2 linked regions of the Homo sapiens genome follow. The protein of the gene in region 1 purifies or fractionates together with the protein of each later gene. This does not show direct contact. Each region holds a gene or a part of one and is shown on either strand. Other genes may lie near its edges. The genes, in order: RGS13 and GNA11.

Region 1 (3,817 bases):
TTTTTGTTGGAGAGACAGGGTCTCTCTATGCTGCCCAGGTTGGTCTCAAACTCCTGGGCTCAAGAGAGCCTCCTGCCTCAGTCTTGCAAAGTGTTGGGATTATAGGCCTGAGCCACAGTGCTGAGCCTAAATTCCTTTTATTTCCTCAATGGGACATAACTCATTGCCTCTTAATCTTTGCTCAAGTTGCCCCTCCTTCACTCAGCACACTCGTGGATATCCTGCTGGTTCCAGCTCAGATGTTACTTAACTGGGCTGCCTTCACTAACCCCTCAAGTCTAGTTAGGTTCTCCTCCTAGGTGTATTCACAACCCCTGTACTTCCTGTATCCAAGTCCCCATCACATTTCGGGATTTTTTGTTTTTGTTTTTTGTTTTTGAGATAGGGTCTCACTCTGTTGCCCCAGCTACAGCACAGTGGTGCAATTACAGCTTGCTACAGCCTCCATCTCCTGGGCTCAAGTGATTGTCCCACTACAGCATCCCAAGTAGTTGGGACTACAGGCATGAGTCAACATGACCAGCTAATTTTTTTTATTTTTTGTAGAGACAGAATCTTACCGTGTTGCCCAGGCTAGTCTAGAACTCCTGGGCTCAAGCAATCCTCCCCGCTTCAGCCTCCCAAATTGCTGAGATTACAGGTATCAGCCACTGTGCCCAGCCCATCACATGTATTTTAATTGCTTGTCAGTGAGGACAGAAGAGGACAGACAAGATGTATATTGATCACAGGCAGCCAGAACTTGGCACATAACAAGTATTCAAAAGACTTTTGAATGAATCGTAAAGACTGATATAAAAATTCACTGTTTATCCTTAATAATTCATTATATATGTATGTATATATGTTTAACAAACCATTTCCAGCTTTAAAATGTGGATTTAATGACTCTTAACAAATTTGTTAGTTGTTTTTTTAAAGTCCTGAGTTAAAAACCTTCTATGATATGTATTGTTATGTAAAGGTGCCTGAGATGAATAAACTCTAACTGAATTTTAAAGTCAAAGTTACTGTGCCCAGAGTAGATAAAACCAGATAAGCAGCACCCTTAAAATTCACTCAGAAGGTGCTTTATTTTTTATTTGGCTATTTACACTATTTTACTTGTCCAGTTAAAATAAGGCTCTTTTTTAATACATTGAGAGAGCTTTCTAAACACAAGAATTGTGGCTGGGCACAGTGGCTCATGCCTACAGTCCCAGCAGTTCGGAAAGCTGAGGTTGGCAGGTTGTTTGGGCCCAGGAGTTTGAGACCAACCTGGGCAATGTGGTGAAACCCCTTCTCTACCAAAAATACACAAAAATTAGCCAGTCATGGTGGCGCATGCCTGTAGTCCCAGCTACTCCAGAGGTTGAGGTGGGAGGGTCACCTAAGACTGGGGATGTCAAGGCTGCAGTGAGCCATGATCATGCCACTGCACTCCAGGCTGGGTGACAGGGTGAGACCCTGTCTCAAAAAAATAAAAATAAAAATAAGAATTGTCCCAAAAGGGAAGCCTTGGGAGTTGGTAAATTCGTTATCGGTAAGTTCTAAATGAAAAGATCTTTTTCAGAGATTTGGTATTTTTTGAACCTCATTGTTTAATAAATAGGCCAGTTGAGTAAAGTCATTTACAAATCTAAGCACGTATATTTTTATAAAATATTTATGAGAGATGAGTCATTTTATTCTCCTCTCTCCTCCCAACTCCCCCAGTGACTGTATTCCATTAACTTCAAGAGCCCATCTTTTTTTTTATGATTTATAATATTGTATGTTCCTTAGAAACTGACTGTAACATACAATTATTTTAAATGATTAAATTATACAAATATATACTGTATTTCCTTAGAAAAATGAGCAGGCGGAATTGTTGGATTTGTAAGATGTGCAGAGATGAATCTAAGAGGCCCCCTTCAAAGTAAGTAGCATTTAAGTTTCTATGGTAATTGTAAAGCATATTTATCAGATGATAAATAGGTACATATTTATTAAACTGCTATTGTAACATATTTTGTTCAGAAAGTAAAATTTGCATTTACACGTGAGTCATTTCATCAGAAGAGCAGTCATATGTTACTAAGATTCTTGTTTTCATTATTCATGGTTTACACTTGAGAATTCAGCAAGTTAAATGCTTTAGAATCTATTATGAATAGTCTCTGTTCTTTTTAAAAAACAAAGAATATTGTTTGTGTTAAAATGAGATTCTTCAATCCAAAATATTTTCTTGGTTCCAACCCTCCACATACGAAGTGCCAGAAAGCTTCATCCCTAGATAAAGAAGGTGAGACTGGAGGAGGAATCAAATGTTAACCAAGCTCCCAAGTCTCTTCCTCCACACTTTTCTATAACTCAAAATGTTGCCATTTGGATGAGAACAGTGAAAAGAATAATGCCTGAGAAAAGTAACAGACCATTGCATTGGATTTCCTCACCTGAAAGAATTCCCAAAAGTTGAGAACCCCTGTTAGATTAACCATGAGTGCCTAACATAGTCCATGTCCAGCCCTCAGTTCTGGCCACACCTTTTTGTATGGTCAGAGCCCCTGGCATGAATGCTCTTTCACTAAAATACCAAAATGTCCAAAAAGGCTTACAAGCTACTGTGTGGCAAGGAGAAGGATGCTGCAATGGTGGTCAGAGGAGATAGTAAGACCCAAAGCTCAGCATTTTAAATGACAGTGAATGCTACTGCACTGCACAGGTGCATCCAAGGACAAAGGTATAATCTGCTAATTAAGGGACAGCTCTCCTTTCTTCGAATGATTCCCATAGAGGATCACTGTCAGAGCTCGCCTTTCTTCTATCTGCCTTATAGACTCACCATGAGAAAAGGGGAAGACCAGAAAAATTAAAAATCACATTCATGGAAAGCTGCCAGATAACAGTTATTTAATAGGTACTTGGCATTCATGACCTAATTTAATTTTCATTATAACATTGTGCGATAGACGTTATTATCCCTATTATATAGACAATAAAATTGGGGTTTGAAGATTTTAAGTAAGACCAAGGACAATTAAGTACAGCACTGGGATTAGAACCTAGGACTGTCAGAGACTCCAAACATTCTTCATTCTTTTGTCTGCAACATCATGGTATCTTAAAATGCTTTCATATCCGTTTGGTATCCACTGCCCATCCGCCCAGAAGAATGGAGGGGACACAAGGGAGAACTTGTATCAGGAAAAAAGGTATTTCAAATAATCCTAATAAAGGCACCTGGATAGCCATGGGCCAGCATTAAACTTGTGAGAACCTCCAAAAAAAATTATAAGCAAAAATGGGGTTCAATTAAAAACAAATTGTATTTCCCATTTTTACCCCCAACCGTAATTACTCCAATCATCTCTCCCCATAAATCTCATGAGTCTTAGAGACAAAAGAACTCTCTTACCAACAATCATCGACACTTAATTTTAAGCTAACCCAACACATTGATGACTCTTCACTCGTGTTGTAGATTTTATTCTTCCCTATATAATGGGAATGATTAGAACGGACAGGCATTCAATAAACCTTGCCTAGCTCTTTCCATTTCACCAGATTGAAAAGGTTATTTTAGGTTACTTTTTCTAAAGTTTTAACAAGAGAAAAGAACAATGACTCAGATACTATTTCATGGAAATGTTTTTTGAAAGCAATCTTAACACAGTACACTGTTAAGCCTCAGTACTGATGCAAGCAGTCCATCCAAAACTGGCAGGATCCGTCTGAATTTTTAGAAAACAAAAGATATCTGACCTTTTAAGGACTCCCAATATTTTTCCATGTTCTCGGATATTTTTTAATCTCTTTAACTAATCCTCCTTCATTGTGTTAAGAACCTGCTAAT
Region 2 (3,386 bases), on another chromosome or scaffold:
ACATCTGTCATCCACCGGTGCCTGCTGGACTCCCCCGCAGACCAGACCAGGTGGATTTCACCACTCACATGCCCAAAGCAGCCCCGCTCTCCTCGGCAGAGTTGCAGGGACCCCGGCCTTCCCTGGGGCCTGGGGCCAGGGCCTGAGGGGCACTCTCCGCTTCTGCCTTTGTATTCTTTCAAGGAGACCAAAGTGCCTTTTCTCGTTATAGAAAACTTAGAAAAGTCACAAGTAGAAAGAGGCAAACGTCCCGTAAGGAACGCACGCCCGCAGACATCGTCTGAGCTGATTTTCTTTCTCCCGCCTGTGCGTGGCCTGAGAGTGTGAGGTTGAGCTGCTCACCACGCGGGGCAGGGCGCTGCGCCTGCTCTTCTGCCCCAGGAGGATACCGGCAACTCTGCCCTCTGCAGCCGTCACTGGAGGGTCCCTGCAGGGAGCAACTGTGGCATCAGTGTTTACTCCTGCGAGTGACGCTTGGTGAACATCTGTGTCCCTGGCCCAGTGAGGGGAAAGGCTTCTGTGCTCAGGGTGACATCCAGATGCCAGATGTAGGGTCCCTGGGCACCCATCGCAGGTTCCCGCAGCAGCTGGCGCCCAGAATCCTCTGGGTTCTCACACCCCCACACTAGCGCCCGCTTCCCTGGGCCCAGTGGTCTCAGGCCCCTTTGCCAGTGAGGGAAGGGTCTGCGGTGGTCACCCCTGGAGGCGGTGCGGCCGCTCTCTGAGAGCGTCCTTGCCCGTTCTAAGAGTGGGGGCTCTTCCTGCTCCAGCCGATGTCAGTCTGGTGTGGCAGGAGGGGCTTGGGTGGGAGCCGTCCTGGGATTGCAGATTGGGCCTTGGGGCGCCAGGTGGCTGAGTCCTGGCGCTGTGTCCTTTCAGGATGGTGGATGTGGGGGGCCAGCGGTCGGAGCGGAGGAAGTGGATCCACTGCTTTGAGAACGTGACATCCATCATGTTTCTCGTCGCCCTCAGCGAATACGACCAAGTCCTGGTGGAGTCGGACAACGAGGTGGGCCCTGCCCTGAGCAGGGGCAGCGTTGGGGGCCGGGCCTTCCCCACCTGCCAAGCCTGGGTCCCCTCACCTGGGTCCCCCCAGCTGCCCCTTGGGCTGTGTGCAGTGGGGAGGGCCCCTCTGATTCCCTCTGCCTTCGCTCCCGCCAGAACCGGATGGAGGAGAGCAAAGCCCTGTTCCGGACCATCATCACCTACCCCTGGTTCCAGAACTCCTCCGTCATCCTCTTCCTCAACAAGAAGGACCTGCTGGAGGACAAGATCCTGTACTCGCACCTGGTGGACTACTTCCCCGAGTTCGATGGTGCGCCGGGCTGCGGCATGGGGAGGGGCTCGCGGGCAGGGCCTTACTGGGGGGAGGGGGCTGATATGGGAGAGGGGCTCATACAGGCCGGGAGCTCTAAGGGAGGGCGTCTGATGGGAGGTGTCATGTATGGGAGTGGAGTCTCAGGGAAGGGAGATCTCGTATGAGGGGGGCCTGTACGGGAATGAGTTCTCCGACGCGGGTGTCTCATACCCGTGGGAGATCTGTTAATGCAGGGACTCCTTATACAGGAGGGGTCTCGGGTGGGAGGGGTCTCGGGCAGGGGGATCTCGGGTGGGAGGAGTCTTGTACAAGGAGGGCACCATGGGAGGGGGAGTCTTGTATTGGTGGGTCTTGTACGGGAGGGAGTTGTCGTATGGGGGTGTCCTGTATAGGTGATCCCATATGGGAGGGGTCTCACAGGAAGGGTTCACGCACACTGCCAGCGCAGCCCCGTGGGGACCTTGGTGGTAGTCCCTGCATCCTCCTCTGTGCCCTACTGCCCCCACCCTCGGACCCGTCCCTCCCTACGTGGCCCCTGCCCCACGGGGTGTGTCAGGGCAGCTGAGCACTGAGGGTCTTCACATGCCCAGCCCTCTCTGGGCCTGGGGATGGCGGCCAGGGGAGGGTGTTGTGTGCCCTCGTCTGTGTGGTCAGTGGCTGCCGTTAGTGCTGTCACCACTCAGAGCTGTCCCTGCCAGGCACAGTGAGGCCCTGGGCAGCTCTGGCGCCCTCATTTCCACCCCGGATCTGTGCTCCTCCCGTGAGTCTCGGGTGTCATCTTCGGGAGGGCCCCTCAGGGTGCCCTGCCTCTGGATGTGCAGCGAGAGGGAGGGGTCTGGCACACGGTATAGCCTCGGCCGCTGGCTGCAGGCGCAGGGCCCTGCTGTCCCTGGGCAGGGGAGTGGCGGGGGGCGCTGCACCTGCTCCAGCCGCACGTGGCCCCTGCCCAGCAGCCTGTCCTGTGGGCTCAGAGAGCCCTGGTGGGGGGAGGCCAAGGGACTGGGGCATAGACCCCTGTCCCACCAGTCCCCAGAGCAGCCCCTTGAACACCCCCAGGGGCCTTTCCACCGGGGCAGGCAGGAGTTACTGGGCGGGTCGCCTGCATTGTCCAGGGTGGTGGAGGGGCAGGGGTGGCCGGTGGGAAGCAGCGCCCCTGCTGGAGCCCCTGGATGTCTCTGAGGCCTGGCTGCAGCAGGGGCACCGTGGGTGGGTGGGGGCCACTGTTCCTGCTCTGTAGGCTCTGTGCCCAGCCCTGGGGGCCTCTCCTCTCACCCTGGGCCTTCGCAGGGCAGCCATGCCAGAGGCCTGCCCTGGAAGGCTGTGGCTGTGGAGCTGAGTGGATAGAGGCCGGCAGAGGGCTGAGCAGAGGGAGCAGCGGTGGGTGCAGAGCCCCAGGTTGGAGGCCTGGGCCGTGACAGTAGTGCCCTGGGGCTACAGTGGGATTGGCACCGCAGCTCACCTGGGGAGGGAGGGGAGCTGCGGCCCGTCAGGCATGCAGTGGGCTGGGGGTCGAGCTGGGTGGGCCGTGGGCCTTACTCGCTCATCCCCTGGGAGTGACAAAGGGGCCCACGAGTCCCTTGCCCTGGGCCGGGCTGGGGCACAGCCTCACCCTCTGCCCTCCCCCAGGTCCCCAGCGGGACGCCCAGGCGGCGCGGGAGTTCATCCTGAAGATGTTCGTGGACCTGAACCCCGACAGCGACAAGATCATCTACTCACACTTCACGTGTGCCACCGACACGGAGAACATCCGCTTCGTGTTCGCGGCCGTGAAGGACACCATCCTGCAGCTCAACCTCAAGGAGTACAACCTGGTCTGAGCGCCCAGGCCCAGGGAGACGGGATGGAGACACGGGGCAGGACCTTCCTTCCACGGAGCCTGCGGCTGCCGGGCGGGTGGCGCTGCCGAGTCCGGGCCGGGGCCTCTGCCCGCGGGAGGAGATTTTTTTTTTTCATATTTTTAACAAATGGTTTTTATTTCACAGTTATCAGGGGATGTACATCTCTCCCTCCGTACACTTCGCGCACCTTCTCACCTTTTGTCAACGGCAAAGGCAGCCTTTTTCTGGCC

The links.
Region 2: the proteins of RGS13 (region 1) and GNA11 purify together in Homo sapiens (affinity purification with western blotting, with the first as the bait; one study listed by BioGRID). This does not show direct contact.

The regions. Positions count from the first base shown.
Region 1 is NC_000001.11:192,642,500-192,646,316, forward strand, and holds part of RGS13 (regulator of G-protein signaling 13), read left to right. Parts: intron 1-1,831; 5' UTR 1,832-1,835; coding exon 1,836-1,900; intron 1,901-3,817. UniProt on the Homo sapiens protein: Inhibits signal transduction by increasing the GTPase activity of G protein alpha subunits thereby driving them into their inactive GDP-bound form. Binds to both G(i)-alpha and G(q)-alpha.
Region 2 is NC_000019.10:3,118,045-3,121,430, forward strand, and holds part of GNA11 (guanine nucleotide-binding protein subunit alpha-11), read left to right. Parts: intron 1-879; coding exon 880-1,009; intron 1,010-1,161; coding exon 1,162-1,315; intron 1,316-2,944; coding exon 2,945-3,135; 3' UTR 3,136-3,386. UniProt on the Homo sapiens protein: Guanine nucleotide-binding proteins (G proteins) function as transducers downstream of G protein-coupled receptors (GPCRs) in numerous signaling cascades.